Regions from separate parts of the Homo sapiens genome. Here all the other regions are linked to region 1. The links come from fine-mapping of genetic effects on gene expression. A gene starts in region 1. Each other region holds a variant in brackets. All regions are shown on one strand. Distances are from middle to middle. Region 1 holds the start of LINC02346 (long intergenic non-protein coding RNA 2346). Region 2 overlaps LINC02346 (long intergenic non-protein coding RNA 2346). Region 3 overlaps LINC02346 (long intergenic non-protein coding RNA 2346). Region 4 overlaps LINC02346 (long intergenic non-protein coding RNA 2346).

The links. PIP is the estimated chance that this variant, and not a neighbour inherited with it, causes the effect.
Region 2: its variant is the best candidate, but not a certain one, in a credible set for the expression of LINC02346 in subcutaneous fat (FUSION, PIP 0.72).
Region 3: its variant is the best candidate, but not a certain one, in a credible set for the expression of LINC02346 in subcutaneous fat (TwinsUK, PIP 0.66).
Region 4: its variant is the best candidate, but not a certain one, in a credible set for the expression of LINC02346 in nucleus accumbens (GTEx, PIP 0.57).

The regions. Positions count from the first base shown.
Region 1 is chr15:25,898,649-25,906,754 of GRCh38, reverse strand. LINC02346 (long intergenic non-protein coding RNA 2346) reads right to left here and starts at 4,395. Exons shown (of 5, transcript NR_040082.1): 1 at 4,189-4,395. RefSeq lists an enhancer at 7,873-8,106.
Region 2 is chr15:25,942,796-25,950,901 of GRCh38, reverse strand. All of the region lies in intron 1 of LINC02346 (long intergenic non-protein coding RNA 2346), which reads right to left. Among named protein-coding and RNA genes, the nearest start is that of LINC02346, 44 kb to the right of the region's middle. RefSeq lists an enhancer at 7,562-8,062. The variant T/AAT (reference allele first, on the strand shown) is at 3,162.
Region 3 is chr15:26,012,166-26,020,271 of GRCh38, reverse strand. It overlaps LINC02346 (long intergenic non-protein coding RNA 2346), which reads right to left. Exons shown (of 5, transcript NR_040082.1): 2 at 4,251-4,938. Among named protein-coding and RNA genes, the nearest start is that of TRE-TTC2-2, 66 kb to the left of the region's middle. The variant A/G (reference allele first, on the strand shown) is at 4,942.
Region 4 is chr15:26,023,226-26,031,331 of GRCh38, reverse strand. The region is part of intron 2 of LINC02346 (long intergenic non-protein coding RNA 2346); the gene reads right to left. Among named protein-coding and RNA genes, the nearest start is that of TRE-TTC2-2, 55 kb to the left of the region's middle. The variant A/G (reference allele first, on the strand shown) is at 3,672.

The DNA.
Region 1 (8,106 bases):
CCAGTGGAATCTAAACAGCCTGAAAATTATATACCCACCATCCCCCAAATTTAAAAATGTGTGAACATGGCTGGGCGTGGTGGCGCACGCTGGTTATCCCAGCACTCTGAGAGGCCGAGGTAGGAGGATTGCTTGAGCCCAGGGGCTCCAGAACAACCTCAGCAACACAGCAAGACCTTGTCTCTACAAAATTTGTTTTTTAATTAGCTGAGCATGGCAGAAGGTGCCTGTAGTCTTAGCTACTCAGGAGGCTGCGGTAGGAGGATCACTTGAGCCCAGGAGGTCAAGGAAGCAGTGAGCTGAGATCACATCACTGCACTCCAGCCTGGGTCATAGAGTGAGACCCTGTCTCAAAAAAAAAAAAATGTGTGTGAACAATCTCCTCCTTAAGTATCCATTTTTTCTACTGCAACTCCTGTTTTCATTCCTCTTCCTCCACAGAATTTTATTATAACAATTTCTTATGCTTAAAACTCTTCTGTTCATCACACTATCAGGTTTCTTGCTACAAAAGCTATGTATAAAAACTTACAATTTTAATTTTCTTCAACATGTCTCTAAATGTTAAATAACTTTTTCCAGTTATTGTAAATGATGTATTCCAGTTATCATGGTTATTAACACTCAATTCATGAAGGTAAAATGACTACATTATAACTTGATAATTATTAATAGTGAAAATATACACTTATCAGAAACACATCTTATAACGAGATAAATGGTACTAAAACTGTTTTCAAATTACTTTATGTATCCATGGATGAATATTACTTATCGGTGGCATGACACATGATTCGGTATCAGTTGGATTCCTATTTTTTATATATGTAAGCATGGCGAAAAACGTTTTTACATGAGTAAATACATCTGAATGGAAAGTGTTTTGTTGTAAAGATTCCACTCCTTCTAAGTTATGTGCTGAAAATTACATGAAGATTGATCATAAAAAAATTTTTTTGAGATAGTCTTGCTTTGTCACCCAGGCTAGAGTGTAGTGGTACAATCATGGCTCACTGCAGCCTCAAACTCCTAAACTCAAGGGGTCCTCCCACCTCAGCCTCCTGAGTAGCCAGGATCACAGATGTGTGCCACCACGCCCGTTAATTTTTATTTTTAGTAGACGCGGGGTCTCACTATGTTGCCCAGGTTGGTCTTGAAATCCTGGGCTCAACCAGTCCTCCCACCTCAACCTCTCAAAGTGCTGGGATTACAGGCATGAGCCACTGCACCCGGCCTAAAAATTACTTTTAATGATCTAATCCATCAGTTTATAAATTGACTAGATCCTCTTTCAGTTCATGGAAAGCAAAGAACTAGAACAATCTGACTTGCCAGAAGATTAGTAACACAGCCATTAGTCACTCACTTTCTCACACTTTCCCAACACTGCAAATATCCTCTGGTGGGTGGGCTGTGGCCATGGCCAGGGAGGCCTTCCTCCTCTGGGCTGATGCAACATTGCCCTGGGTGGAAAGATCTGCTTGGGGAGGGAGCTGGGTGCTGTGGAGGAAGGCGGGGAAGAACTGCATCTCCATCAGGGCCTGCCCATGAAGATGGTGTTAGGTTCTGGAACACAGCTTGCTTAACACTGCCTGTGCCCTTGCAAACTTTGTGTCTTGCTGGGGCTTGTAGATCCCAGTTTGCAAATGGTGGCATTGTGTAAATCCCAACTCCCTCAGGCAAGGGCAAAAACACATCACCTCAAACTGTGTTTTGTGCTTTTTTTTTGGCAGGGGGACTAACGTTTTATAATTTATTTATTCATATATTTAGCAAACTGTTATGGAGGCTCCTGTACCACCTGACCCACCCTTCAGCTGAGAGCCCCACTCATGCTGGGTACCCAGGAAACTGCAGGCCTGGCCTGGAAGCTCAGCAGCTGAGTGGCACATTGCAGGGGATGAAAAGCCAGGAGGATAAGGCGGCCTGGGGGGACCCTGAGGGCAAGAACTATGAGATGTCCTCCAGGCGAGAGAGGAAGAAAGCCACTGCGGGGAGGATCGGCCTGGAACCCAGACTGACAGCTCTTCCTTTCCAAACACAGCCCCCAAGAGATGGAGAACCCAGATGGCCCCATTTCCAGACAAACAAATGCCACTGTTTTTGTTCTTTCACAAATCTGGTTCCCTTGACAATTAAAACCAAGTCATAGCTGGGTACAGTGGTGTGTGCCTCTAGTTCTAGCTACCCGGGATGCTGAGGTGGGAGGATCACTTGAGGCCAGAAGTTCAAGACCAGCCTGGGCAACATACTGAGACCCCCATGTCTATAAGAAAGAATAAAATTAGGTTATAGATCATATTTTAATAAACTTGTTTTCAGCACAATGTCTAATTTTAAAAATAAAAATGTGCTCTTAGTAGTCAGACTTGGACTATTGCTGTTGTTTAAAAAAATACACACACCTTTTTCTCAAAAAGAGATGATTCTGAAAGTTTTCCAGCAGGAAACATCTCTAATGTAACTGGAGTTAATGAATGATGACTTAGGTAAAAGACACTTTCTATCCATGCTGCCATGCCAGCCTCCTGGTCCGCCAGGGAGAGCTGTGGCCTGCAGCCCAGGGGTCATGAGGGTGAGCTGGCCCAGGAGGACCACGTGGAATGCTTCACAAGATTGCCTCAGATGGAAGGGCATGGTATAGAAGGCAAATCAGAGGAGGAGTGACATTTTCTGTGGTTATAAGGAAGACAGGTGAGGCCGAGAGCTTGAAGAAGGGCTTGCAGCTGTCCTGACATTAAAAGGCTTGTTCATTATGGGGGTCATGAAGCTGTTTCTCATCTTGCTTGGGCTCTTTGTGGAGGACAGATGTGACACCCTCACATCCTTGAGGCTGGCGTCTCAGATTTTTTGGTGGCGAGTCCCTGAGGCCCACTCGAGTGAGCCAAAGGCAGGAGCCCATGGGATACTTGGCCAGGACCCACATCCCTGGAACCTGGGCTGTGTGGGGCCCTAGACTAAGATCTCTCCTCGACCAACTGCCAGCCAGGCTCCTCTGAGTCCTCTTCTCAACAATACCTCCACGCTGGCCTATAAAGACTTCAGCTAACACTAACATGGCATCTAGCAACTCATGGCCACATCCCTAGGATGACACCAGCCCCCCTTATAGTCCCTACCTCAGGAAACTCAAGACCGCCAAAAAATACCCTGTTCCAGCCAATCCCTGCAGCTACGGCCCCTGTCTCCCGGCCTCTGTGGGACATCAGGAGCTAACTTCGACCAGAGCCAGTTAGCAGCCCAGTGGGGCCGGCCCCTCCTTCCTGGGCTTTGCAATTTCTCACTTCCTGACTCCAGCAAGCCTTCCCTCACCCCTCCCTCCTCCCTTGGAAAAATCCACTCACCTCTGTACACATCCAAGCTGACTTCAGTTCACACTGTAACCTCTTCCCCACTGCAACGGTTATTACTGTGAAAAATCTCTCCTGACCCTCTCACTACTGCCTGGCTTTGTTTGTCTTTGACACTCTGGGTTCAGGTAGGACAGGGTGTGCCCGGCCACAGCCCCCTCAGTAACTCCAGGCTGGCCCACTTCCTGCCGTGTGTGAGGTTTTGGAGTGGCAAGTTTGTTCTGCTTTGTTTCATGGTTTTCAGTCCCTCCCAATATCCCCTGGCCTGTGGTCACCACAGTCAGCCCAGGCCAGCAACTGACCCAGGCTGGAGGTTAACACCACGGAGCTGCCCACACGTGTGTGCCCGAGTCCCTGCCCATGCCTCAGCAATGGTCACAGGCTTCTCACCTCCATTCAGCCCCCCTATTTGGGGCCCTACCTTTAGCCAGCTAGCCAAGTGCTCATTGTAACCCAGTATTTGTATTCATTCACCATAGAAAATTTGTCAAATGGGTAATGCATTTCTTTTTACCCGCCTCTTAGTGACTGGGCTTATGATCAGAATCAAGTGCTATTTTGTGGCCACTGGCCCCTCATTGGCCCCTTCCTCAAACCCATGCTGGATCTGGAGTGAAATGCCCTCAGGTTGACCCCTGCTCGGAGCCCAGGCCAGGTGAGACCGGCTGGTGGGTGCACTTGGAGATCACACCCCAGCTGCTCAAGGGACACTTTGAGCTAGAGCAACATGCATCAGTGTGCACAGAGCCCTTCCTGTGCACCCGCACTGCAACTAGAGCTTTCTAAGAATTGTCTCACTCCATCCCCAAGAATTGTGTGGCTGGGGGGATATGCTCACCCACATTTTGCAGATGGCAGAGAGTCTTGCAGAGCTGCCAGCGTTCCTGAGGCTCACACAGCCAGCCATGTTGGGGCGGATGCTCCGGCCTCTCGTCTGGCTCCAGAGCGAGGCAGCGCCTTGCAGCACATTCCCAACAATTTCCTCATTGGGAGGCTTCCTAGGAAACCAGCCTCCCTGCATATGTGGACACTGCGATGCATCAGCCCTATGCCTGCTTCCTCCCAAGCTGAAGGCACCCACTCATGAACCGCCCTTGATATGCCAGGGCATCTTACGCTGCACTGGGTTCCTATTTATGTGTAACCACATTTCACTACCTAAACAATGCCTGTTTATTATCTCATGGTTCTGGTAGATCAGGACTGTAGACAGCCTTGAGCCGAGTCCTCTGCTGAGAGTCTCCCAGGCTGAAATCCAGGCATCAGCACAGGCTGCAGGCTCATCTGAGGCTGGGGATCCTCTTCCAGCTCACTGGTGCTTGGCAGGATCCAGCTGGGCTGTAACACTGAGGTCTGTATATTCTTGCTGGCTGTCAGCCAGGGGTCACTCCAAGCTCCTAGAGGCCACTCTCACATTTGGAGAGTGTCAATCAAAATATGACTGGGCAGCGGCTCACACCTGTTCTCCCGGTACTCATAGAGGCAGAGGCAGGAGGATCGCTTGAGCCAGGAATTCCGGACTTGCTTGGGTGGCATAGGGAGACTGTCTCTACAAAAGGAAAAAAAAAAAAAAAAGAGCAAAATATGGCAGCTGACTTCCTCAAGGCCAGAAGGAGGATGTCTATTGCTGCCTCTTGTCTCCTTTAAGGGATCACCCGATTAGGTCAAGCCCACTCAGGATAATCTCCTTTTTATTGACTCAAAGTGAACTGATCAGGGACCTTCACTACATTTGCAAAGTCCCTTTTTGCCTGTTCACACTGAAACCCTGTTGTCTTCACAGGAGTATCCCACACTCAAGGGGAGATGCTATTCAGAGTATGTACATGAGGGTGGGGACTTTGGGAACCATGTTACAACTCAGCCTACCGCACTCCCCATTATCAAATTCTCCCAGTCCCTCTTCCTGAGGCCAAACCTAATGCTGGAATTCCTCACCCCTCCCTGGACCTCAGAATAGTGAACTTCACTCTCACTTAAAAACAAGGACAACTAAATGACAGACCTGGTATTGTAGAAACTCAGGAGACTGTATTGCCTTCATGCACCAACTGGTGACAGGAATACGTGGATCTGTGAGTCAAAAGGGTACACTCCACTTAGACTCATGGAGGACGGGCACCTTCTCCCCACCCAGGCCCAGCTCCACATCGTTCTCACACTGTCACTGTCAGACTGACCTCTGCCCATTCAAAGCATTGCACATAAGCTTGGGCATAGCTTGCTTGCTTGTGAGGACTGAAGTTTGTCCAGACAGATGAGGCTTTGCTCAACACCTTGGCTCCAACCATGTCACATGGATCCTCCTCCACATTCAGCATTGCAGATTGGCTGAATTCCAAATGCCTCACAACTAGGGCAAAGGAAAGGCAGGCCTTCTGAGACAGAAGGGAGACAGTGAGTTATCACAGGGCAGCTCACGTAATAGGTATGAGCCATCCATGAGAGTGGTTGCCCACTCCTAGAGAACAGAGGGAAACGGTGAACAAGACCGGACTCCCAACTTGCACTATTCAACAAGAACCCACGAGAACTGTGCCGCGCTTAATTGAGTATTCCTGCCTCCCCGGCAGCCATCAGCTAGCATGCAACTTTAATCTGTCCTATTAACTGATGTCTGCATGTGGTGAAGGAAGAAATTCACATGGTTCAGAAGGGCCATCAGTGAAATCACAGGCCTTCTCACTCCACTGAGGTAACCACTGTCCGTAGCTTCTGGCTCCAGTTCTTCTGTGAGTTTCCATTTATGTCTTTTTCAAGTAAGTCCTGAGAGATTTCCCCAGCTTTAGCTTCCAGATTTGCAACTTGGTGTTCAGCCATTTCCAATTTATTATCCTGCTCTAACCTTTGGCTCATGTTTCATTTATCATGTTTCAAAATTCCAAGAACACATTATATTTCTCTAAAACTCCTTTTACACAGCAGTCCATTGTCATTTTAAGGCTGTATCTTCCTGTAGTGTGTGTGTGTGCGTGTGGTGTGTGCGTGTGTGTGTGTGTATACACAGTCACTTGTCACTTAACAACAGGGATACACTCTGAGAAATGCTCATTAAGTGATTCTGTCATCCTGCAAACTTCATAGATAAACCTGGATGGCATAGCATCCAACACCCCTAGGCTGTATGGGACGGCCTATTGCTCCTAGGCTACAAACCTATACAGCATGTTACTGTACTGAATACTGTAGGCAGTTATAACACAATGGTAAGTATTTGTCTATCCAAACATATCTAAACATAGAAAAGATACAGTAAAAATGTAGTGTAAAAGATGAAGAATGGGACACCCGGATAAGACAATTACCATGAATGGGGCTTGCAGGACAGGGAGTTACTCTGGATGAGTCAGTGAGTGAGTGGTGAGTGAATGTGAAGACCAGGACATTACTGTAGAATACTATAGACTTTAGAAACACTGTACACTTAGGCTGCATTAAATTTATAAAAAATATTTTTTTCTTCAGTAACAAACTAACCTTAGCTTTCTGTAACATTTTTACTTTACAAACTTTTAAATTTTTAAAAACTTTGGACTCTTGTAATAACACCTTAAAACACAAACACAAAATATGTTGTTTCTTTATATTCTAATACTCTAAGCTTTTTTTTCTATTTAAAAACTTTTTAAAAACCTTTTTAAACTCTCTCGTTAAAAGTTAAGACACAGCTAGGTATGCTGGCTCACACCTATAATCCCAGCACTTTGGGAGGCCAAGGCAGAAGGATAGTTTGAGTCCAGAAGTATGAGACCAGCTTGGGCAACATGGTGAAACCACATCTCTATAAAAAATACAAAAATTAGCCAGGTGTGGCAGTGTGCACCTGTGGTCCCAGCTATTCAGGAGGCTGAGATGGGAGGATTGCTTGAGCCCAGGAGGTGGAGGTTGCAGTGAGCTGAGCTAGCACCACTGCACTCCAGCCTGGGCAACAGGGCAAGAGCCTGTCTCAAAAAAAAAAAAAAAAAATGAAGACACAAACAGACACATTAGCTTAGGCCTACACAGACTCAGGATCATCGATATCACCACCTTTCACCTCCATATCTTGTCTACTGAAAGGTCTTCAGGGGCCATGACATGCATGAATCATGGCCGAGATCGCCCAATGCACTTCAACCTGGGCAACAGAGTGAGACCCTGTCCCAAAACATTAAAATATATATATATAAAAAATAAGGCCTTCTTCTGGAATACCTCCTAAGGGACTGCCTGAGGCTATTTTACAGTTAACTATTTTTTTTATAAGTAGAAGGAGTACATTCTAAAATAAAAAGTATAGTAAATACGTAAGCCAGTAACATAGTCTTTCTCAAGTACTTAGTCTTTACTATCAAGTACTTGGTACTGTATGTGATTGTATTGCTATACCTTTACGAGACTGGCAGTGCAGTAGGTTTACTTCCACCAGCATCACCACAAACACATGAGTAATTGCACTGCACTAAGACATTAGGATGAGTATAATGTCACTAGGAAACAGAAATCTTTTAGTGCCATTATAAACTTATAGGACCACGGCTGTGTTCATCACTGAACAAAATGTCATTATATGACATGACTCTGTGTGTGTGTATATATATATATATATATATATGAGTGTATATATATATATATATATGAGTGTATATATATATAGGGCATGTATATATACATGTAATATTAATATAAACAATTATATTACACACATGCACTCAATTAATATCTGTGTCCAGTGAAGTTTCCCCTGTTCTCTGGATTCCTTCTTGATCTTCCTCCC
Region 2 (8,106 bases), 44 kb before region 1:
TTGAAATGAGCCAGTCACACAAAGACAAATAGTGTATGATTTCTCTTACATTAGGTTCGTAATTAGTCAAACTCATAGAAACAGAAAATAAAATGGTTGTTTCCAGAAGCCAGGGGATAGAGAAATGGGGAGTTGTTGTAGAGTGGATATAGTTTCAGTTCTCCAAGAGGAGCAAGTTCTAGAAACTCATTACTCAACAAATGTATATACTTATCACTACTGCACTGTATACTTACAAATGGTTAATATGGTAAATTTTATGTTGTGCATTATCACCATAATATTTTTAAAAGAAGGGGCTTGTGTTTCCCTTTTGTGATCACCCATTTTTCACTTCAGCATTTTGAACTTTAGGTTTCCTGTAGCTGTTTTCCTGACCCCTGGAGATACCGGGCTCAGAATGTCTCCAGCACCTTGTAGGCAGATACTTCTCAGCATCTTATTGGGCTCTGTGTGCTTGATGCTTAAAGTGACATGGAGACATGCCACTTGCTGAGAGGCAAAGAAAGGCAAAAGGTGACTGCTTTCCTGGCTTCAATGAAGGCAGAGAGAAGGGATATTGGAGGCACAGATGTTAAGGCATAAGCAATACCAAGAGTTGCCAACAGAAGAATTAACCCCTGTCCTGGTAACATTTGCAGGTGTTTTTCACAGGGCCAGTGGATTTCATGTGAGTGCTGTCCAGCACCAAAGGAAATGGCCAACACACATGGAGCAGCCTGCAGCGTCCAGCACCAAGGAGGGTGGCCAGCAGGCATGGCGCAGCCTGCCTGTCCCAGGAAAGCAGGAGTCACAGGACACACTGGACCCAGGTAAACATGTATATTAGTTTCCTGTGGCTGTTATAGCAAATTACCAAAAATTTCATGACTCAAAACAACAGAAATTTATATTTTCTCACAGGTTTGGATTCCAGAAGTCCAAAATTAGTATCACTGGCCTGAAATCTAAGTATCAGCAGAGCCAATGCTCTCAGAGGCTGAGGGGAAAATCCATCCTCTGACTTCCTCAGCTTCTGATGGCTGCTGGCATTCATTGTCTTGCAGCTCCACCACTCCAGGCTCTGCCTTCTTGGTCACAGGGCCTCCTCCTCTTCTGTCTGAAGTTAAATCTCCTTTATCTCCCTCTTATAAGGATATATGTGCCAGGATTTAATGCCCACGGAGACAATCCAGGATAATCTCTCCTCAAGATCTTTAACTTAATCATACCTGAAAATATGCTTTTTCCAAATGAGGTAATATCTACAGGTTCTAGGAATTAGGACTTAATTATTAGCTCCCACTTATAAGTGAGAACATGCAGTATTTGGTTTTCTGTCTCTGTGTTAGTTTGCTTAGGATCATGACCTCCAACTGCATCCATGTTGCTGAAAAGGACATCATTTAGTTCCTTTTTATGGCTGTATAGTATTCCATTGTGTATATGTGCCACATTTTCTTAAAAAGAGATTTATTATGGGGTCCTGGCTTACATGATTATGAAGGCAAAGAAGCTGCCATCTGGAAGCTGGAAGACTCAGGAAAACTGGTGATTTAATTCTGTCCAAGTCAGAAGGCCTGAGAACCAGGAGAGCTGATGGTGTACATCCCAGTCCCAGGGGAGGAGAAGATAAGATGGGATGTCCCAGCACACCCAAAGAGGTAGAAAGAAAGGGGGCAAATTCCCCCTTCCTCCTTTTGTTCTACTCAAGCCCTCACCAAGTTGGATGATGCCCATCTCCATGGGGCCATCTATGTTACTGAATTCACTGACTCAAAAGCTAATGTCATCTGGAAACACTCACAAACACACCCAGAAACTATGTTTAATCTGAGCACCCTGTGGCCTAGTCAAGTTGGCATATAAAATTAACCTTCACAGTGTAATCCCAGGACTTTGGACAGCCGAGAATGGCGGATCGCTTGAGCTTGGGAGTTTCAGACTGGCCTGGGCAACTTGGTGAAACCTGGTCTGTTTCTTTTCATTTATTTATTTATTTTTGAGACAGAGTTTCACTGTTGTCGCCCAGGCTGGATCTCTTGTTGCAGTGGCACGATCTCAGCTCGCCACAACCTCTGCCTCCCGGGTTTAAGTGATCCTCGTGCCTCAGCCTCCCAAGTGGCTGGGATTCCAGGCGTGAGCCACCATGCCCGGCTAATTTTGTATTTTTATTTTATTTTTTTTTGGTGGAGATGGGGTTTCTCTATACTGTTTGGGCTGGTCTCCGTGCTCCGCCTGCCTCAGCCTCCCAAAGTGCTGGGATTGCAGGCGTGAGCCAACACTCCCAGTCAAGACCCGGAATGGAAAAACAAAACGAAAACCACAAAGATTAACCAGGCATAGTGGGCCGCACGGGTATCCCAGATACTCTGAAGGCTGATGTAGGAGGATTGCTTGAGCCCGAGGGCCCGGGGGTCAAGGTGGCAGTGAGCTGTGATGGCGCTGCTGCACTCCATACTGGGCGACAGAGCGGGACTCTGTCTCAGGAAAAGGGAAAGAAAAAAAAAGAAAGTAAATAAAATTGCTAAATCAAGGAACAGCTTGACAGTAATTATTGACAGAAATAGGGGCAAAAGTTAGCAGACACCAGTGTTCACTTAGTGGGAACTGCAGGTGTCCCCAGACAGGAGGCTGCTACTTCTCCAAAAGAAATCTATTATTGACTACCAATAAAAAAATACACTGTAGATTTGTTATGATACACAAATGGCTAAACTTTATATAGCCACGACAGTATTCTAGCACTGCTCTAAGCCTTTTCCTGCTCTGGAATAGCTACTATTGTTACCTCCATTGTACAGAAAACAGATGCCAGAGGGAGGACCATGGAAACTATGAAATTGACTTGTAAGTTTTGGACCTAAAGGTTCTTCCTGCTCTACTCCTTACATCGCCACATTTTAGTTAACATATCTCTTAAAATACTGGTCCTTTCTATATTTAGAGGGACTCCTCTTGCAATTTGAAGTGTTTTTTTGCACTAAGCATTTGGTCATAAGATCATCTGTGATTCATGTCAGTTTAAGTACCTCTTTAGACATTGTTCAGTTAGGAATGTAAATAGGAGCTAGCATTGTGTGTAAAAGGAAAGAACAGCTGCTTACAACCATTTTTGTTTCATAATACAAATGTAAATCAATATGTTATTGGAAATGCAGGCTGGGAGGGGAGGGGAAAAA[T/AAT]GCAGAGAGAAAAGCCCCATCTCTGCTTGGAGTTCAGCACTGGGTCTCTTTTCCCTTCCACCTTCCTTGTCAAGGCTGCCACAGTGACAGAAGCACACAGGGCTGCCTTTTAGTGACACCTGCTGGGACAGACCTGGCAGAAGGGATTGCACATTTGCATGTTTCCTGGCTGCCTCTGTTAGCCCCTGAGTCAGCAGCCCACTCCAATTCATGCTGAGCTTGGACAGCTCGGGTTTGAAAAATTCCCCCTTCCCTTGGAGCAACCGCTTTCCAGCCTCCTCATCATTCCAAAAGGAGAATGACCTACATGCCAGCATGACAGAGATCTGGAAATTTATAGAAGCTCCATTGTGAGCCTAAATCCTTAACAGGGGCTCAAACTGCCAACACCGAATGAACAGAGAGGTTTTGCAATAAAGCAGGAAGTCATTAAAATAATGAATCACCCGGCTGGGTTTTGAGCTCCTTTCCCACTAATTTAATGGAAAGATTTATTGTCTTTACAATGTATACTTTCAGAAATTTTGCATAAATTTATTATTTACATTTTAACATAAGTAACTCCTTTGTGTTTTATCACTGAGCAAATTCTATGTAGCAAACCAATGCTATATTTTGGCAAACTCACATTATAGCTTAGAAAATACTAAAGACCCATTGTAAACTGAGGGCAGCATTAAGCAAATTATACTTACCTTTGTGACTACAAAACTTAATGATTCAATGCTTTTCCTGTGAAATTTGTCTTTCAATGCTGATAGTCTTTTAATAAAAAATGTCAATTAAATATTTTCATATTTTCTCTTAATGCAAATATACAGAAAATAAATTTTATCTTAAAAGGTAGTGTTTCTCATGGGAGAAGAAATAAATTTTTTAGTTGCTTTCTCAACCAAGTATGTGAAAGGAAGTTGTTTCCCTTTATATTTTAATAATTAATTTAGTCAAGGCCATATTTGGAGCAAGACTGTTTCACTTTCGCAGTAGTAGAATTTTCAGTGTTTTATGTCTCCATTCATAGCCCATGACACGAGGTTTACTAGCTCCCCATTTTTGCTACGCTAAACAGGGATGCGTTTCCAGGAAGAGGAGTGCTGGGCACCAGGCAGGACTCTGGCGGCCCCACATGGCACTGGTCTCAGGATACACGGGCTGGAGGAAGCATCCGACCCGGCACTTCCTGTCCTGAGCCTGTTGTCTGATCCTCTGTAGGTTCTGCTTCCTTCCTGTCTTGGAGGGCTTGGGCAGGAGGGCGGCAGCCCTCCTAGAAGGGGCGCTCCTATGTGGAGGGGACGCTCTGCGCGGTCCGGGCCGTGGGGTGTGGGTTCTGTGTCCTGGCCTGAGCCTCTCCCAGGAAGCGACAGCATGGAGCCGGGGATCTGGTGAGGAGGTGAGGAGCGGAGATTGTTAGCCGCCTCCCTTTAAGGGCAGACACTAAAAAGAAAAGACGTTTGTGCAGAAAGGCCCCGCCCATGGCCTCCTGCCCACCTGGAGCTTGGAAACTCCCAGGGAAAGGCCCTGGAACAAATGCAGGCAAATGTGAGGATGCTCAGGCTCAGCTCTGCAAGGAGAGAACGAGCTTTCGGGTCACCATGGAGGAGTGGGCCTCACTGGTCAAGCCTTCCCCACTCTCAGCCTCAGTTTCCCCGCAGAGTGGGAAGGCCAAAGAGACTGTCAGCAAAGGGCCTGTGCAGGAGCCACAGTCGTGGTCAATACATAGTTGCCAGGTGCCAAGCGTTGCCTGAAACCAGACTCAACTATGCAAGAAATAGCAAGCCAGCAGACCCGGCTGCAGGATCTACAGGGCCTGTGCAAAGTGGAAACGCAGAGACACTTTGCGAAAGTCATTGTGAAATTTAAGACACCAACAGGAGAGGATTGAACACAGCAGGAACCCTCTGAGGGCTGAGCTCTGTGCAGCAGCACAGGTGGGACACTCATGACAGAGCCTGCCATCCTTTAATTTTTCTCTAAGTATTTTCCACAAAATGAATAGACGTCCCAATCTCTACTGACAGGAAGGAGGTTCAGTCTCTGATTTTGAGAACTGCCCTGCCCTCCGCCCACTGCTCACACAGGGCTATGCCAGGCCAGGTGTCCCATCACGTGGGACAAGCCTGCAGGATCCCTGGGCCTGGCCTCCAGCTCCTTCAGGCCCATTCCCTCTCAGGCCCTCCCACCACCTTGGGGATATAGAAACTGCAGGCCACAGCTGCTCCTGGGACCGACCAGCATCTCCCCTCACCTGTGCAGAAGCCTGTAGCTCCTGCCTGGAAATTTCAGAGCTGGCTTTCTCTCCACCTGACATGAGCTGAAAGGCCCATATAGCAGAATCATTCCCAAACAGCAAACTACACCCCCTCCCCAACCTTCACATTCTCTCCCAAGTTGAGGAACCCGCTTAGGAACAGCAAAGAAAGGGAAGAAAAAGCAAACACAGGAGTTTGCCTATAAAAACCGCCTGAAACCGAGCTTGCAGTGAGCCGAGATCGCACCACTGCACTCCAGGCTGAGCGACAGAGCGAGACTCCGTCTCAAAAAAAAAAAAAAAAAAAAAAAAACCGTCTGAAAGTCCTGAACCCAGGAGGCGGAGCTTGCAGTGAGCCAAGATGGCTCCACCGCACTCCAGCCTGGGCGACAGAGCAAGACTCCGTCTCAAAAAAAAAAAAAAAAACCGCCTGAAAGTTTACCTCCTGCCCCACCGTGATTGAGAGCAGACCCTTAACTCTCCCAGGACAACTGCTCTGGTTGTGTTGACTTCACATTCTGGCATCTGAGGCCGCTCGGAAGGCGTGGGACACAGACCACCACAGCGCAATGAGGACTGAATGGGGTCCATGGTCTTGAGAAATAAACACCCTCAGGAAAAAAAAAAAAACTCAGAAGGAAGGTCCTCTCAGATGAGAAGGGGTAAAAGTCCTTCTCCCTCCACATGGATCCACATCCCAGAGACTCTAGCCTGGCTTGGGAAAGCTCCCACAAGAGAGGCCAGCCCACACAGGTTATCTCATTTTTGTTCTTAGCTCTTGAGAGATGACAACCTGCTAACAGTCCTCGCTTGCTCTGGGCGTCTGCTCGGCCTCCTGGCCACGCTGGAGGAGCCCTTCAGCCCACAGCTGCGCTTTGGGGGCCCCTCTCTGGGGCTGGCGGAGGCCCGAGTGGGCTCCCTCTGCTGGCGGGGAGGTGTGGAGGGCGAGGGAAGGGCAGGAGATCCGGGCAGCGCTGGCTGGCCAGCGCAGGTTCAGGGTGGGTCCCGGCGTGGTGGGTCCCGGCTCACTGGGCCCCGCACTCCGTGCCACTGGCTGCTGCTGGGCTTCATCAGAGGCAGGGTCCTCTGTGTGGACTGCCTTTCCCTCTTGGAGGGGTCATTGGCTACGATAGCGGGTTTCCCTCTCTTTGTTGCTTCCTCTCTTTTCCTCTGCTTCCTCTGGGCTGCTGGAGTGCCCAGGCTAGGTACGGCAACGTTGGGCAGCGAGTACCAGTGAGAGATGAAGCCTGGCTTCTGGGATGGGTGGGGACTTGGAAAACTTTTCTGGCTAGCTAAAAGATTGTAAATGCACCAATCAGCACTGTGAATCTAGCTAAAGGTTTGTAAACATGCCAATCAACACTCTGTCAAAACGGACCAATCAGCTCTCTGTAAAAAGGACCAATCAACTCTCTGTAAAATGGACCAATCAGCTCTCTGTAAAATGACCAATCAGCAGGATGTGGGTGGGGCCAAATAAAGGAATAAAAGCAGGCCGCCCGTACCGATAGCAGCCACCATTCCCGTTTTATTCACCGCTGTAGAGGTGTTATTCTTTCGCTTTTCTGCTGGTTGCTGTGTGGTTCCACGGCTCTTTTATGAGCTGTAACTTCACCACAAAGGTCTGCGATTTTATTTTTGAGGTCAGCAAGGTCACTGACCCAGTGGAAGGAGGAACACCAGATCTGCCACCTTTAAGAGCTATAACACCTTTAAGAGCTATAACACTCACTGCCAAGGTCTGCAGCTTCACTCTTGAAGTCAGCAACACCAGGAACTCACCAGAAGGAGAAAACTCTGGACACACCTGAGCATCTGAAAGAATGAACTGGGGACATGAAACTTTAAAAACTGTAACACTCACCGTGAGGGGCCATGGCTTCATTCTTAAAAGTCAGTGAGAGCAAGTACCACACTACTTCTAGACACGCTAAGATCCTTCCCCTTGGGCTCTGTGCAAAACCTTGGAAATGTCACGTTTAAATATTTCAATGTGGTCTCTTGTGTGGAGGTGGGATACTGGACATGGAGGGAGAGCTGGGTTTCCATCTTTCAGCTTCAGGAATTGAAGGAAAAGAGGGTGTGCATCTGAGCAAAGTGGGAACAAGCAGCACCACTTGCTCGGACAACCTTATGACTCAGGAGGGCACGTGAGCACATAACACACTGCAGTCTCTCTTAAGGGAGGCTTTCCAGCGCCTCCAGCCACAGTGGAGGTTCCGTTCCTCTCCCAGAAGCCCATGAAGGTTTCTGCCAGACCCCCAAAAGCAGACAGGACCCTCACGTGTGGGGTGGGGTGTACATGGAGCAGGCAGCATTACTGCAAGATGTGGACAGGATTCTTTTTCAATTTCAGGTAAAGGTGGGGTTCCAGGAGCACTGCAGAATGGGCCCTCACGGCAGTGTCAGGGAAGATTCGTCTCAAAAGATGTTGCCTGGGTGGTAACAAAGGCCTGGCCAGGGACAGGCTGGGGCCTGCAACTGGGTCATCTGTCCTATCCTAGCCTGAGAACAGGACCAATTTAGTGCCCGTCAGAGTTTGCCTTAGAACGGAGATGGGGCCGCAGGTGAAGGCGGAGCGGCAGGTAGTATTCCTCTGGCTTTCCAGCTGAGGAAAGCTCTGTCTCAGGTCTGGGGAACTGTCCGCGGTTGTCGTTTTCCAGGGTTGGTATGTCCAGGCAGTGCCCAGGCTTTTCC
Region 3 (8,106 bases), 110 kb before region 1:
GTGTTGGAACCATAACTCCTAGTGCAACAATGTTGAAAAGTGGGGACTTAGGAAGTGATTAGGTCATGAGGGCTCTGCCCTCTGATGGATTCATTGCATCATGATGGAGGTGGGTTCACTATTATGCGAGTGGGTTCCTGACAAAAACGGTTGAATTCAGACCCTCCCCATCTCTTGCAGTGAGTACTCTCTTGCTCTTCCACCTTTTGCCATGAGATGACATGGCAAGAAGGCCCTTGCCAGATGAAGCCCCTCAACCTGGCACTTCCAAACCTCCAGAATTGTAAGAAATAAGTTTCCTTTCTTTATAAATTATCTAGTCTGTGGCATTCAGTTATAGCAGCACAAAATGGACTGGGACCATGTTCACATACCTAATCTGCTTTGCTAGGCAGAGTTGCTTGAAGGCAGAAACATAAATTGCCTCGTACCTTACAGTTGAGTGTATAGCTGAGCCATGAATGAAAGCAGATTTATTCATTTAATAGGCACATCTTTCAAGCAGGCTTTGATTATTCTCAAATTATTCTCACTGAGAGAAAGGACACCTCCCAACCACAGTGGTCAGCTGTCACATCAGTAAGTATTCAACACCCAGCTTTTAGGACCTCCCAGTCCCACCACACAGCTGGAGGATGCCACTGTTTGCAGAGAAAGGTGTCGTGCGATGAGGCATTAGGTGAGGGCAACTCACAAAATCAAAGCACAGGGGCGGTGGGCATCATGGCTGCCATTCATCACACAGGCTGCATCTGCCACCACCACCAGCCTTCCAGCAGTGGGAACCCCCGGGGCCACCACCTCAGCTGTGATCTCCCTGCAGCCCCTTCCTCTGTCCACTCTCTATTTGTGAAACAGGTTCACCAACAACCAATCCAATCCCAAGGGAGGACTCCACTGCATGGAGGAGAGCAACCATCAGAAACAGGAGTCCAAGCAATTCTGCTCCCTGGAGTGCAATGCTACCAACTGCCCAAGACGAGTGAGACAGAACACACTCACAATTGGTTATAGGAAATAGGTTTATTACTCACAGATAGGGAGCAGGGGACGAAAGAAGACTAGGTTCCACTGTGAGCCAGTCCCCCAAGGCTCAAGAAGCCTTCCCAGAGCAGATGGAGTCTCGACTTCATCTGCCCCGCTTCCACTACAGCTGAGGAAACCTGGCAGGCAGCCCACCCTGGGTTCTAGAACTCAGGGGACACGTGGCTCACTAGGAAAAGCTTTGCTAAAGCAAACGAAATATGGCCTGAGAAGGACTCCATACTTCTATATTTGAGTCCTTGTGGATGAACTATAACCTAGCTTAATAGGCAAAGATTGAAAACCTAACTAAGGAGTATGTGCTTGTAACAATATTAAGTCTTGGCCAATCCCAGCAGCCATACTTCAACCACTCACAGACTGCTGAGTGTTCAAACTACTCAAACAAGGCAAACGCCAACCTGTAACCAATCCAGCTGTTTCTGTACCTCACTGCTGATTTCTGTTTGTCACTTCCCTTTTTTTGTCTATAAATTTGTTGTGACCACGAGACACCCCTGGCGTCTCTCTGAATCTGCTGTGAATCTGGGGGCTGCCCGATTCGCAAATTGTTCATTGCTCAATTAAATTCCTTTCAATTTAATTCGTCTAGCTGAAGTTTTTATTTTAACAGCTTTGAAGGACGTGCTGCTTCCGGGAGAGAGAGAAACTAAGCCTGGGCTGTCTAAGACAGCCCCTCCCCAAGATATCACCTTCCCTAGGAGGGGCAGGAACAAGGCCCACTGTTCTGGGCAGTTTCTCCCTGTCTCAGGATATTGCATTCCCAGCACACGCCACACTTACTCTGCAAACCACAGGCAAGAAGTAAAGTGGGGAGATAGCCGGTTGGCCAAGGCTATCCCGGGACTGTCCAGTACTATTCAAGGCCCCCTCAAATCTCAACACTCGCTTCTTATGGAGACACCAAGACCTTGTACATTCTGGGGGAAACCTTCCCCACACTCTTGAATTCATTACCACATGCTCCGTGCTGGCCTGTCACATACGTGTAATGATACATTTGATTACTTGTCACTCTTTCTTTAATGCTTGTCCTCCCTGTAATTCTGTTAGGCCACAGATAAACCACTTCTAGTCCATGCAACACTATCTCCCTGGCCCTTAGCCCAATGCCTGGCACACAGTTGGTGCCCCCCAGTGTTGCCAGTTGGCTCACGGACCGACTGCCCTTGGAGTCATGCTGCTAGGGATGCTGCCCGGCCTCAGGTCCGAGAGCATCAGAGTGTGAATGTGAGTATTGACAAGTGAAGCTGACTTGGCTTCTGGGTCCGGTCGGGACTTGGGGAACTTTTCCGTCTAGCTAAAGGATTATAAACGCACCAATCAGCACTCTGTAAAAATTGACCAATCAGCAGTCTGTAAAATGGACCAATCAGCAGGATGTGGGTGGGGTCAAATAAGGGACTAAAAGCTGGCCACCCCCAGCCAGCAGCAACAATCTGCTTGGGTCACCTTCTGTGATGTGGAAGCTTTGTTCTTTCGCTTTTTGCAATAAATTTTGCTGCTGTTCACTGGGTCTGTGTTACATTTAAGAGCTGTAACCCTCACTAGGAAGATGTGCAGCTTCACTCTTGAAGCCAGCGGGACCACAAACCCACTGGGAGGAAGGAACAACGCCAGAGGTGCTACCTGAGGCACAACCTTTAAGAGCTGTAGCGCTCACTGCAAAGGTCTGCGGTTTCACTCATGAAGTCAGCAAAACCTGGAACCCTCCAGAAGGAAGAAACTCTGGTCACATCTGAACATCTGGAGGAAAGAACTCCAGACAGGCCATCTCTAAGAGCTGTAATACTGACTTCGAGGGTCCACGACTTTATTCTTGAAGTCAGCAAGACCAAAAACCCACTGGGATTTCAATGCTGGACACAGTATGTGACTGTGAGCCTGAATGTGTTCCGGTGAGTGGGCCTGAGTGTGTATTAGTGTACGTGTGGGGGAGAGTTTGGGTGTGAGTGCGCACACTCCACTGCACTTTTAGCATGAGCGCAAGGCTTTCAAACCAGAAAGGGCAAAGGTTTTAATTCTGTTCAGATTCGTGGAGTTCACGTCATGTTGTTTTAAGATGCATCCCAGCCGTGTTGCTTGTGTTTTCCAAAATGTGTATTTATTCAAATCTAAAGAAAGATGTGCATTTGGTTTTTAAAACTGCAGAGCGCTGAAAATCTGGCCTCTGAAAATCTTTTATCTGCAACTGTACTGGTTGCGGCTCTCTGGGCTCTGGCAAATCTGCATTTCACGCCACGTATTCCCAAACATTGCATGTCCTTGTAAACCACCTGGGCAACTCACTGAATCTTTGGATTGGTTCTGTCTGATCAGTTCTTTCCTGATGATGAGAAGCCAGGGTTCTGGCTGGGCACGGTGGCTCATACCAGTAATCCTAGCACTTTGGGAGGCTGAGGAGGGCAGATGGCCTGAGCTCAGGAGTTTGAGACCAGTGTGGGCAACATGGTGAAAACCTGTCTCTACTAAAACACAAAAAATTAGCCAGGCATGGTGGCGGATGCCTGTAATCCTAGCTACTCGGGCTGAGGCAAGAAAATTGCTTGAAACCGGGAGGTGGAGGTTGCAGTGAGCCAAGATAGTGCCACTGTGCTCCAGCCTGGGTGACAGAGCCAGACTCTGTCTCCAACAACCACGAAGAAGCCAGTCTTCTGTTCTCCGTGATATGCGTTAGTTCAGTCCCAGGAGCGTGGAGTAACCCTGCCCTTCCCTGCATTTGGAGTACGTGGAGCACGAAGCACACAGGTTAGCAACCAGGCTCAAAGAGCAGATAGCCTAGTTCAATTGCAGAGACCCCAGAAACCACAAGCTGTTGAGCTGCACTGCTTGTTTTCCATTACACATTTAGAAGTTGCTGCTTTAGGTCACTGGAAGAGTGCAACAGTGACAACAAACGAATAGCTGCTGCTTTGGCAGGGGTAGGTGAGGGTGTGTGGAGACAAGGATCACCATCCTTTGAATGGCAGGATTTTTCTCTCCCACGTTCATTTCCCTAGGCAATACCAACTCCCTGGGGGGCTGCTTCGGCTCCGGCCCCTCCACCAATGATGGTGGAGTCCGCCTGTCCCTCCTGCAGCTGTCTGTGCGAATCTACTCCTTTCACCTCTAAAAGCAACTCACAGCAGGCACCCTATGTTCCATGTAACACCTTTCTCTCAAAGCTGTATCATTTGAATTTGTCCCCATCATAGGAAGTAGCAAACCTCAGGAATTTCTTGCCAGTTTGTGTGCTATCTTCCTTAGCTTCGTTTGATTGGAGTTGCTCTCCTCCCTTAGTCAGCATGTGTGACTGCAAGTAACTCTGTAGTGGGTAGGCTTTGGGCGTGTAGAAGCAGCCTATGCCTCCCACCTCCACCAGCGGGAAGCTGGCCGGTCAGCTCGGATGCCTGCACAGACACACGTGCAGAGGCAGAGACAGAATCCAGGCATCCCTGTCTTTGAACTTTTAAGTTCCACAGGGTTAGTCAGCCATGAGGCTTGGGGCTGAACATCTATCTTGAGCTACCTATGCCGAGGCGATGGCCAGATGAGAGCAGGTGCCCTGTTGAGGTGCGGTCCTTGAGCAAGGGCAGGAGGGCTGCATGTGTACCAGGAAGGAGCGCTGTAGCCCCTTTGTCAGAGAGCAAGACCCAGTAATAATGGCAGGTGTGGATAATACTGGAAGGGCAGCAGCAGCCCTCAGATGAACACGTGGGGCCTCCACAGGAGGTGACAGAGCGCCAGGCAGGAGAACGCAGACGGGGGCGACAGGAGCCCTTGGCAATGGGAGGAAGAGGAAGGTGGCCTGAGGAAACAGGGGCTCACTAGGCCTTTCTCAGCAACAGCAATTCTCAGAAGTTGGTTCATGGATGCTCTTGTTTTGATATGATTAATTTTTAAGTAGTTTTTGGGCTG[A/G]AAAGGAAAAAAAAAAAAAAAGGTTGGGCAGATGCATCTGTTACTCCTACGCAGCATATGGCAGTAAACTGGCATTAATTTTACTATGTTTATGTGTTTACTAATTTATTATATTTAGTATGTTTATTATGTTTGTATGTAGTTATACAGAAACAGGAAATAAAATACAAATAGGTGGGCTTCTTTTGGTAAAGAAATTAGTTATTTTTAGTTGTGAGGTAAATTTCAGTCAATTCGACTTTATACAACTCTTGCAATTGATATGTCTTTCCATGATCTCAATTTTTAAAAAATGCAAACCTTTATTCCAAGTGTAATTATCGAAGGACTTTTTAGACATAAAACAGAAAGTTCCAGCTAATTACAAATGTGACCGACTAAGAGCATTTAACAGGACAAACCTACAAACTCAGAGTTCCTAAGAATCATCTACCTGTCAAACACTTCCAGCCAATGATATCCCTCTCCATGTAGCCAAACATAGAGCAGGCCGCATAAGAGGTTATTTTAAAAATGATTAATACCCAGCGTTGTCTTTCTTATTTGCAAACGATGGTTATTACTGTCATGGACCATTATGAATGGGAAGACAGACAGTAGGAAATGCTGCATTACCTATTAAAATTTAATGTAGAACGTCATCCCTCAGTACCGAGGGAGGATTGGTTCCAGGACCCTAGCGCATACCGAAATCTGCAGATGCCCAAGCTCTTTATGTAAAATGATGTAGCATTTGTGCATAAACTACACACATGCTCTCATATACTTTATGTCATCTGTGGATAACTTACAATACCTAATACAATATAAATGCTATGCAAATATTTGTTATACTATATTTTTACTTTTATTATGTTTTATTGTCCTATTATTTTTTATTTTTATTTATGACTATTTTCAGCCTGCAATTGAATCGGTGGATGCAGAACCCACAGATATGGAGATCCAATTGTACTTTGAAATTTCATTCTCATAAGAAACTAAGGCTTGCTGACTGTTTTCCCAGCAGTCTTCCAAAATTTACATTGGTACAATAAGGCAATCTAGATACCATGGCAGATCGCCCAGCTGAAAACAAGTAAAACTGCCGAAAAAAAATGTGGGAGAGATATTTTTACAGGCAGCAATAATTTGGCAAGTGAAGCAGAAGATTCAGCGACCAAAACTCCAGTGAAAATTGGAACCTAGGAGATGAGCTGGTTTTGCCTTGAGGGCATCTGGCAAACCCAGGGATCTCCAGCCTTGGAATTCCAGGGCCAATGGTGCAGGGAAAAGTGCAGAGCCAGCCCACACTGGGACCTGGGACACAGCCTCTCCAACGCTGCGGGACAGGGAGGAGCTTTTCCTGGGGTGTCCCGGTGGACTGGAAATGTACCCACTGTCCGTAGGACTAGCCGCATCAATCCTGAGCACTGAATAGAACGGAAAAACATTCCTGCTGATAATTCATGATCACCAGCCAGCCCTCAGGAGAGTTTTCAGCTCGAATTTGAATTACCCAGGTGGTCAGAAAAACCTCAAGTTGAGGATTCAGCTTAATTTCATCTCTGGCTGATGACAGTGCCCTGGTGCTCGGCAGCAGAAGGACCCACAGAGGCAGGCATCAAATCATTCCTGTGGATAACAGAAAAGTTGGACATGCAAAAATTCATACATTGGGCAAATCAGACCTGGAATTAAAAATAGACCGGCTCGGCCAGGCACAGTGGCTCACGCCTGTAATCCCAGAACTTTGGGAGGACAAGGCGGGTGGATCACGAGGTTAGGAGTTCAAGACCAGCCTGGCCAATGTAGTGAAACCCTCTCTCTACTAAAAATGCAAAAATTAGCCGGGTGTGGTGGCGGGTGCCTGTAGTCCCAGCTACTTGGAGGCTGAGGCAGGAGAATCGCTTGAACCCGGGAAGCAGAGATTGCAGTGAGCTGAGATTACGCCATTGCACTCCAGCTTGGGCAATAGAGCAAGACTTCATATAAAAAAATAAATAAATAAATAGACCAGCTCATACACCTACTATGTACCCACAAAAATTTAAAATTAAAAAAAGACCAGCGTATTATGTTTAAAGAACTAAAAGAACTGAATATACAAATAAGGAGCAAGAGACTTTATTAAACAATCAGGTCTGAAAAAGAATCTAATCAAATTTGTAGAAATAAAAAATATATAAACTAAAAATAAAGTTTAACATTAGGCTAGAGAATTTGTGACCTGAGACTTGGATCTGAAGAAATTATTCAGAATGTATGACAAAAACATGAAGAAATAGGACATGTAAAAGACGAGTCAAGATATAGGTGGAAACCAGGAGAAGTATTAACATATCAGAGTTCAGGAAGGAAAGGAGAGAGAAAATGAGATCAAGGCAATATTTTAAAAGATAATTCTGAGAATTTTCCAGAATTGATTAAAGACCACAATCCACGGGATGAGGAAAACCAATGAATCCCACACAGAATAAATTAAAAGGAGCCTACTCCTAGACAGTAACATAATATCATCTATGTGCAGAGGGAATTTTATACACTGGAACAAATATCTCTCAAAACAAAGAAGAAATAAAGATATTTTCAAATCTACCACTGAGCAATTTTCTCACCTACAGACCGTAACTAAAGGAATTTCTAATACATGGTCAGAGATATATGAATTGAAGAACAAAAGAAATATTAAATATCATAAAATATAAATATTCATTTGTAAAACAACAACACTGTGAGATTTTAAAACTACAAGATCAAAGGTAAAATCAAAATAGGTGGCAAATTAATCACAGCACAAAAGTCAGAAAAACTGAGTTGTGTTTAGGATGAAAATAAAGATGTGAACTTTAGGTTTTAATAAGTTAGGCTAGAATTTCTAAGGTAATTGTGCTAGGCTTTGTTTTCCAAAGGTAGCTGCAACAATATTTCTCATCTGACGTGTCCTTCCAAAAGTGGAGTCTAATTCCCTTTGCCTTGAACCTGGGCTAGACTCTGATTTTCTTGTCGTCAAAGGATGTGGTGGAATGATGTTGTGAAGACTTCTGGGTTGAGAAAGCAATGCACTGCCCTCTTCTTCTAGGGTCACTGTCTCCTGGAACCCAGCTGCTGTGCTGTGAAAAGCCAAGCCCTATAGGAAGGTCCATGTAGGAGCTCTGGTGGCCAGCCCCAGCTGAGCCGAGCCTG
Region 4 (8,106 bases), 120 kb before region 1:
AAGGGTGAAGGGAAGCCCTTTTTTCCTTCACTACACTGCCCTGTCATGAAGGTAATAATGTGTGAAAGGAAAATAAACCTTGGGACTCCAGAATCACTAAGCCAAAATCACTAAGGGAAAAGTCAAGCTGGGAGCTGCTCCGGCCAACCTGCCTCCCATTATATTCCTAAATAAGACAGCTACAAAGACAAAAAAGCTACATATCTCCCTCACAATTTTCCCGCAAGAAAATTCCCAGTGGATGAAAGACAGGGCTAAGTTGTGATTTTTTCTTATTTTGCCCAAATTCCTATCTAAGGAGTCTGGGGAGTCATGCCCTACAAACCACAAATTCTCATCAGATGGGTTTTATTTAACCCTATATATCGTGACTTACTTTCCAATGTGACTCTGGCATAACATTTTGTGACAAAGAAGAAGATAAAAATATTTTACCCCAAAATATGTTTCTTTGCCATATTTTGAAATGGCCCACTACACTGCCCTGTCATGAAGGTAATAATGTGTGAAAGGAAAATAAACCTTGGGACTCCAGAATCACTAAGCCAAAATCACTAAGGGAAAAGTCAAGCTGGGAGCTGCTCCGGCCAACCTGCCTCCCATTATATTCCTAAATAAGACAGCTACAAAGACAAAAAAGCTACATATCTCCCTCACAATTTTCCCGCAAGAAAATTCCCAGTGGATGAAAGACAGGGCTAAGTTGTGATTTTTTTCTTATTTTGCCCAAATTCCTATCTAAGGAGTCTGGGGAGTCATGCCCTACAAACCACAAATTCTCATCAGATGGGTTTTATTTAACCCTATATATCGTGACTTACTTTCCAATGTGACTCTGGCATAACATTTTGTGACAAAGAAGAAGATAAAAATATTTTACCCCAAAATATGTTTCTTTGCCATATTTTGAAATGGCCCTGCAAAGCCATCCTTTGTGGGGGAAAATTTGCATCTGTAAAAAATCTCTATCAACATAGCTAGATCTTTTTCTTCCAGGCCCCCCCACCCAGTCCTGAAGAGATTAACTGAGAGTCTAGTACCTTTTGGAGGTCTGAATAGGAAATATTTGTCATTTATTGTCTCTATGGGCAGCCACTATAAGACTTCAAAAGAATCTTGGTCTTTACAATCTTTTATCTTAACCTGAATATTCCATTTCTTTCTTTCTTTCTTTCTTTCTTTCTTTCTTTCTTTCTTTCTTTCTTTCTTTCTTTCTTTCTTTCTTTCTTTTCTCTTTCTTTCTTTCTTTCTTTCTTTCTTTCTTTCTTTCTTTCTTTCTTTCTTTCTTTCTTTCTTTCTTTTTTTTCCCAAGAGTGTCTCACTCTGTTGCCAGGCTGGAGTGCAATGGGGTGATCTCTGCTCACTGCAACCTCTGGCTCCCAGGTTCGAGGAATTCTCCTGCCTCAGCCTCCTGAGTAGCTGGGATTACAGGCAGCCACCACCACGTCAGGCTAATTTTTGTATTTTTGGTAGAGACAGGGGTTTCTCCATGTTGGCCAGGCTGATCTGGAACTCCTGACCTCAGGTGATCCACCCGCCTCCCAAAGTGCTGGGATTACAGGCGTAAGCCACCATGCCCGGCCCCGAACATTCCCTTTATATCCATCCCAGGTCTTCAGACAAACTCAACCGATTGCCAACCAGAAAATGCTTAAATTCACCTATAGCCTGGAAGCCCCTGCTTCAAACTGTCCTGCCTTTCTGAACCAAATCAATGTATTTCTCAAATGTATTTGATTAATGTCTCATGCCTCCCTAAAATATATAAAATCAAGCTGCACTCCGACCACCTTGGACACATGTTCCCAGGACCTCCTGAGGGCTGTGTCATGGGCCGTGGTCACTCATTTTTGGCTCAGAATAAATCTCTTCAGATATTTCACAGAGTTTGACTCTTTTCGTCAACAACAGACAGAACTCAAAGTCATCCCTCTGCTCATGTGAGACAAATGCAAATCTGATTGCTTCCTTTGCCCTATTGTTTCACTAAGCCAGATTAAGGCGTAAGCGACTATTCCTGTAAATGGCACATTCAATGAAGAGCTAATCAGAAACGCAAAAGGATGCAACTGTTTTTCTCTTTTCTACCTAAGACCTGGAAGCCCCCTCCCCACTTGGAGTTGTCCTACCTTTGCAGACCGAAGGAACCAGTGTTTATCTCTTGTCTCCCTAAAATGTATAAAACCAAGCTGTGCCTGGACCACCTCGGGCACATGTTGGGACCTTCTGAGGCTGCATCACAGGTGCATCCTTAACCTTGACAACATAAACTTTCTAAATCGATTGAGACCTGTCTCACATACCTTTTGGTTTACAACTGTGAAATATATGTGTATCTGAAATATATATGTAAATATATGTGAACGTTCTCTTAAGCTGTCAGGTGAGAGGCGCTGGTGTATCATTTAATTACCCACCACCATGGTTCTAACAGAGCTGGCCAAACAAGAGAGGGATGTGATCTGACTCTTCAAGTGAGCCCACACAAGCACAGCAGACAGATCCTAGCACCCAGTCTTCCTATTTGAGAATACTGTGGTGCCAGCCAAGGCAAGGAATTACCCGATTTTATTACATCCCATACTCTTAAATATGTATTAGATACCTACAGCCTTGCTTGTGCCGATACCATGGAAGGATGCAGCAAAGATTGCAGACTTGCCTGGTGACTGATGGCGACATTAAAACAGGCAAAAATGCCCCTCTCTGATCTTCCTCACTCTCCGAAGGCATAGGAGTTGACTTTCGGATAGCAAATGCAGCAATCCCTGGAGGGTTTTCAGCCAGCCGCCTGTGTGGAATTTAAAGTATTATGCATGATTAATTACCAAAAAATTCAGGCAGGCACTCTCTGTCAGGAAAGTGTTTAAAACCTTCCTGGTGGCAGATTGTGCTGCTAGCAAGAAAAATAGATGCTTCAATACCACTCAGTTTCCAAATGCATTTCCTTTCAGAAATGCTTGTGTTAGCCTGCAAATATGTGCTGTCCTACTCTGGCAATTTTAGATGCGCAGCCCCGAAGCAAAGGCTCCTTCCTGTCCTGCCAGAGAAGGGGGCGCGATTGGATGCCATGCAGAGGTGCATGACACGCATCACAGGTACGTGGCTGCCTGTCTCCTGGGCACCCTTTCCATTTTTCCTTTGCAGAATTTGTCTATGCAGCATATTAAAAATCTACCTCTACCTTGATACACTGAAGTTCTCGCAGTGAAAATGTTTATTAAGAAACATATCTGTGCCAGCCGTGGAGGCTCACGCCTGTAATCCCAGCACTTTGGGAGGTGGAGACGGGTGGATCACCTGAGGTCAGGAGCTTGAGACCAGCCTGGCCAACATGGTGAAACCCCATCTCTACTAAAAATACAAAAAAAAAAATTAGCCAGGTGTGGTGGCGGGTGCCTGTAATCCCTGCTACTCAGGAGGCTGAGGCAGGAGAATCACTTGAACCCTGGAGACGGAGGTTGCAGTGAGCCGAGATTGCGCTATTGCACTCCAGCCTGGGCAACAAGAGGGAAACTCTGTCTCAAAAAAAAAAAAAAGAAAGAAAGAAAGAAAAAAAAGAAACAGATTTTTGCCAGGCATGGTGGCTCATGCCTACAGCACCAGCCAGTTGGGAGGCTGAGGTGGGAGGACAGTTTGAGCCCAGGGGTTCCAGCCTGCAGCGCACTATG[A/G]ACTCTCCTGATGAAAAGCCACTTATTCCAGCCTGGGTTACCTCACCCCCCAAAAAAAATGTTTTGGAAAAAGCTTTAGTTCCAGAAATGTGATCATCTTGATATAATTTTAGAGGGAATTGTTTTTCATAGCCACCACAGTGGAGGGAAAAGTGCTTTCTTCTATCCTTCTAGGTACTTTCGTTGGTCTACAAAATAAGTTGACATAAGACACATTAACCGGAGAAAAACACTTTTAATTATGTACGTACTCACAGGGAGTGTGACAAACATAGGAGACTCAACAAAGCAGCTAGATGACTGAGACTTATACGCTCTCCCTATCCTGAGCTACAGAAAGGAGCAGGGGCTTGGGCTTTGGGGGAGAGTGGAGACATGTTATGAGAGTAAAACCATCTTTGCAAAATTATAACTGAGGAAATTATGACAGTGAAAGAAATCAGACCTAACCAACTCCATCTTGCTTCTAACCCTTAAGCTGTCCTTGTTCGTTCCTGGGCATAGGCAGAACTAACTTTGGGAAGGAATTCAGCTCATGGTTTGACCCTAAAACAAAATTGATAACAACCCTTTCCTGAAAAGAACCCCTTCTTGCCTGGGACCAGTCTGCCTTTGCAGGACTAACAAATTAGCTACAAGATTAGAAATTACAATTTAGGGGTCATGCAGCCTCTGGTTCCAAGAGTCTGAACCTCCCCAGATTGCTCCTGGGGATAACATCACTATTGTAAAACCTAAGATCAGCACTTGAGATATCTCGCAGACCCTGCACTCAATGGATCAGCTGACACTAGCTAAACTGGTAATCCGGCCCAACCAGTTCTGCCATGGCACCCAGGAATAGAAGACATTAAAAAAACCTAACTTCAACCCCCTGTGATTCCATCTCCAACCTAATCAATCCCCACCTCCCAAGCCCCTATGTGCCAAATTATCTTTAAAAACTCTGATCCCCGAATGCTTGGGGAGACTGATTTGAGTAACTATGAAATTCTGGTCTCCTACACAGCCGGCTCTGTGTGAATCACTCTTTCTCCATTGTCGTTCCCCTGTCTCGATAAATCGGTTCTATCTAGGCAGCAGGCAAGGTGAGCCCATTGGGTGGTTACAAGAGGGTAACAAGAGGGGAGGAAATGTATGGTGAATAAGCATTGCCTGGTTACCCAGATAAAAGTCTCTCTGTCAGAGGTGTTTCAACCAGAGCAACTCCATATTGAATAGGTGCTAAGTAAGATAAGGCTGGACCTGCTGGGCTGCATTCCCAGGAGGTTAGGCATTCTTAGTCACAGAATGAAATAGAAGGTCAGCACAAGATACAGGTCATAAAGATCTTGCTGATGAAACAGGTTGCAGTGGGCCGGGCTCAGTGGCTCACGCCTGTAATCCCAGCACTTTGGGAGGCTGAGGTGGGAGGATCATGAGGTCAGGAGATCAAGACCATCCTAGCTAACCCGGTGAAACCCCTTCTCTACTAAAAAAAATACAAAAAATTATCTGGGCGTGGTGGCAGGCACCTGCAGTCCCAGCTGCTCGGGAGGCTGAGGCAGGAGAATGGCGTGAACCCAGGATGCCAAGCTTGCGGTGAGCGGAGATCGTGCCACTGCACTCCACCCTGGGCAACAGAGTGAGACTCTGTCTCAAAATAAATAAATAAATAAATAAATAAATACAAGTTGCAGTAAAGAAGCTGGATAAATCCCACCAAAACCAAGACAGCCATGAGCATGAACTCTGGTCGTCCTCACTGCTACACTCCCACCAGCGCCATGACAGTTTACAAATGCCATGGCCACGTCAGGAAGTTACCCTACATGGTCTAAAAAGGGGAGGCATGAATAATCCACCCCTTGCTCAGCATATCATCAAGAAATAACCACAAAAATGGGCAACCAGCAGTACTCGGCGCTGCTCTGCCTATGGAGTAGCCATTCTTTTATTCCTTTACTTTCTTAATAAACTTACTTTCACTTTACTCTGTAAACTCGCCCTGAATTCTTTCTTGCATGACATCCAAGAACCCTCTCTTGGAGTCTGAATTGGGACTCTTCCCCATAACATCTCTGTTGTAAAATTATCTCTGTTCCTAGTACAGCCATCTTTACTAATGAAATGTTTTTGTAGGTATAAATTTCCTGTACAAAAGGGGAACTTTTTGCTTTGTTTTAGCAGTTGGGGGAGGTAAAGCACTTTCTCTGCTTTGGCTGATTCTTAACTTATTTTAGTTCAAAGTAATGAATATGCCAAAGTGGAATATTTGGTGATGGCGTATCTTGAGCCCTCTGTTCCAGCTAAATCCTGCTTCATGAGGAAAGAAGAGGGTCCTTTAGAAGTGCCATCATTGCTCGAGATGATCCTGTAGCTGCCCTGCAATTAATTGTATAAACATACTAGGTGAACTTGGAGTTCTCCTAGAAAATAGAAGAAAACCCTGAAAAGTCTCTGTCACTCTGCAGGTTATGACTACCATAAGGACATGTTATACAATACACGTGACCATGCTTGCAGTTCTGTTCTGCAGGATGCCATGCAGCCATGCATGCTAAGGTTAGAAAAATAGACTGAAAACATAAGATAGACTGTTAAGTAATAAAATTAAGAAATAAAATAGTATAAACTGTACATTTTTAACCATCCTATTTAAAAATTAATTTTCTAAAAAAACACTGAAAGGCCAGGTGTGGTGGCTCCCGCCTGTAATCCCAGCACTTTGCGAGGCCAAGGTGGGTGGATTACCTGAGGTTAGTAGTTCAAGATCAGCTTGGTCAATGTGGTGAAACCCTGTCTCTACTAAAAACACAAAAATTAGCCAGGTGTGGTGGGTGCCTGTAATCCCAGCTACTCGGGAGGCTGAGGCAGGAGAATCTCTTGAACCTGGGAGGCGGAGGTTGCAGTGAGCCAAGATCATGCCATTGCACTCCAGCCTGGGCGACAGAGCAAGACTCCATCTCAAAAAAAAAAAAAAAAAAAGAAAAGAAAAGAAAAGAAAAAAGAAAAAAACACTGAATGGAAATGGATCACATGATTCTTTTCTCCCCACTTTTCTCTGTTTACCAAATCCCTTTATTGAGCAAGTATTACTTTTACAATGATAAAGGAAAAGAAAGAAAACAAGGAGTGACAGAGCTCAAGGCCGGAGACCATGCTGCTGATGGGCTGTGTCATCTAAGTCCAGCTCCTCTAATGTTTTCTGAGCACCTGCCAGGCTCAGTGGACACACTGGGATACTACTCAGGGCAAGACACCATGTTATCCTCCTGCAGCAACAATCGCTCCCTTTCTGTACCGCTCACACAACTTCACCTTGCCTCATCTCAGCAGATGCAATGGATCAGAACCTATGGCTAAATGACCTTGTCAGCACAGCCACCTGGATGTTGTATGGCAGATGCACCTGAGAGCAATAACTTTACCCCGAGAATGACCCTGTGGCCTAAGAAGAATGTGTGTACCTTGTCCCAAGCTAAGGAATCCAAGAGTAGCAGATCTGGAGAGTCTTTCCTTATCCATGAAGGATGTCCAAACCCCTGGCCCATCCTTTGGAAAGCAGGCCATACAGAGGATTGAGGCCCTTTGTTTTGGGTCAAATGAGGTTGCCAGGTGGAGATGGCTAGGTGGAAGGTGCTAAGTGAAAATGTGATATAAACTGCATGCTTTTTAGAAACAGTAGCAGTTCTCCAGTCTAGCCCACTGCCACTGGACTGTCCCTGTGTGTTTGTAAATTCTTCAGATAAACCCCGTGACTCACTTATTATCTCTGGACTTCTTTTTTGGCCTCTCAGACATACTGCCATCCTTACGGGAGTCAGTACGGGTTCAGCACAACAGTTGTGACATTCTAGACCACTCTGAAACCACCTTTGGCAGTGAGGGAAGTCTCACATGGAAAAATTCTGGCAGTGAAAGAAATTGGACATCGCTGATTCCACCCTACTTCTAACCTCACAGGATGCCCTTGTTCATTCCTGGGCGTAGGCCAAACTAACCTTCAGATGAATTTAGTTTATAGTGTAACTTTGAAACAAAGATGACAACATCCCCTTCCTAAAACTAACCGCCTCCTTGCTCTGGGACTGAAACCACCTTTGTAAAACTGACAAATTAGACACAAGGTTAGAACTGTGGTTCAGGAGTCTTGCAGTCGAAGGTCGCAAGATTGCAACCTCCTGTAGGGAACGTCACTACTGTTAAACCTAGGACTGGTATGTGAAGTGTCTTTTGGACCTTGCATTTTGATGGACCAGCTGTGGCCACCTGGACTGGTAACCCATACCAAGACAGTGACTCAGCTGGTCTTGTAACCTTCACCTAGGAACTGATTCAGCACAAAACGACAGCTTCAACCCGCTATGATTTACCAACTAAGATGGACCCTAAAGTTAATGAAACAGAGTTACTTACAGGCCGGGCGCGGTGGCTCACGCCTGTAATCCCAGCA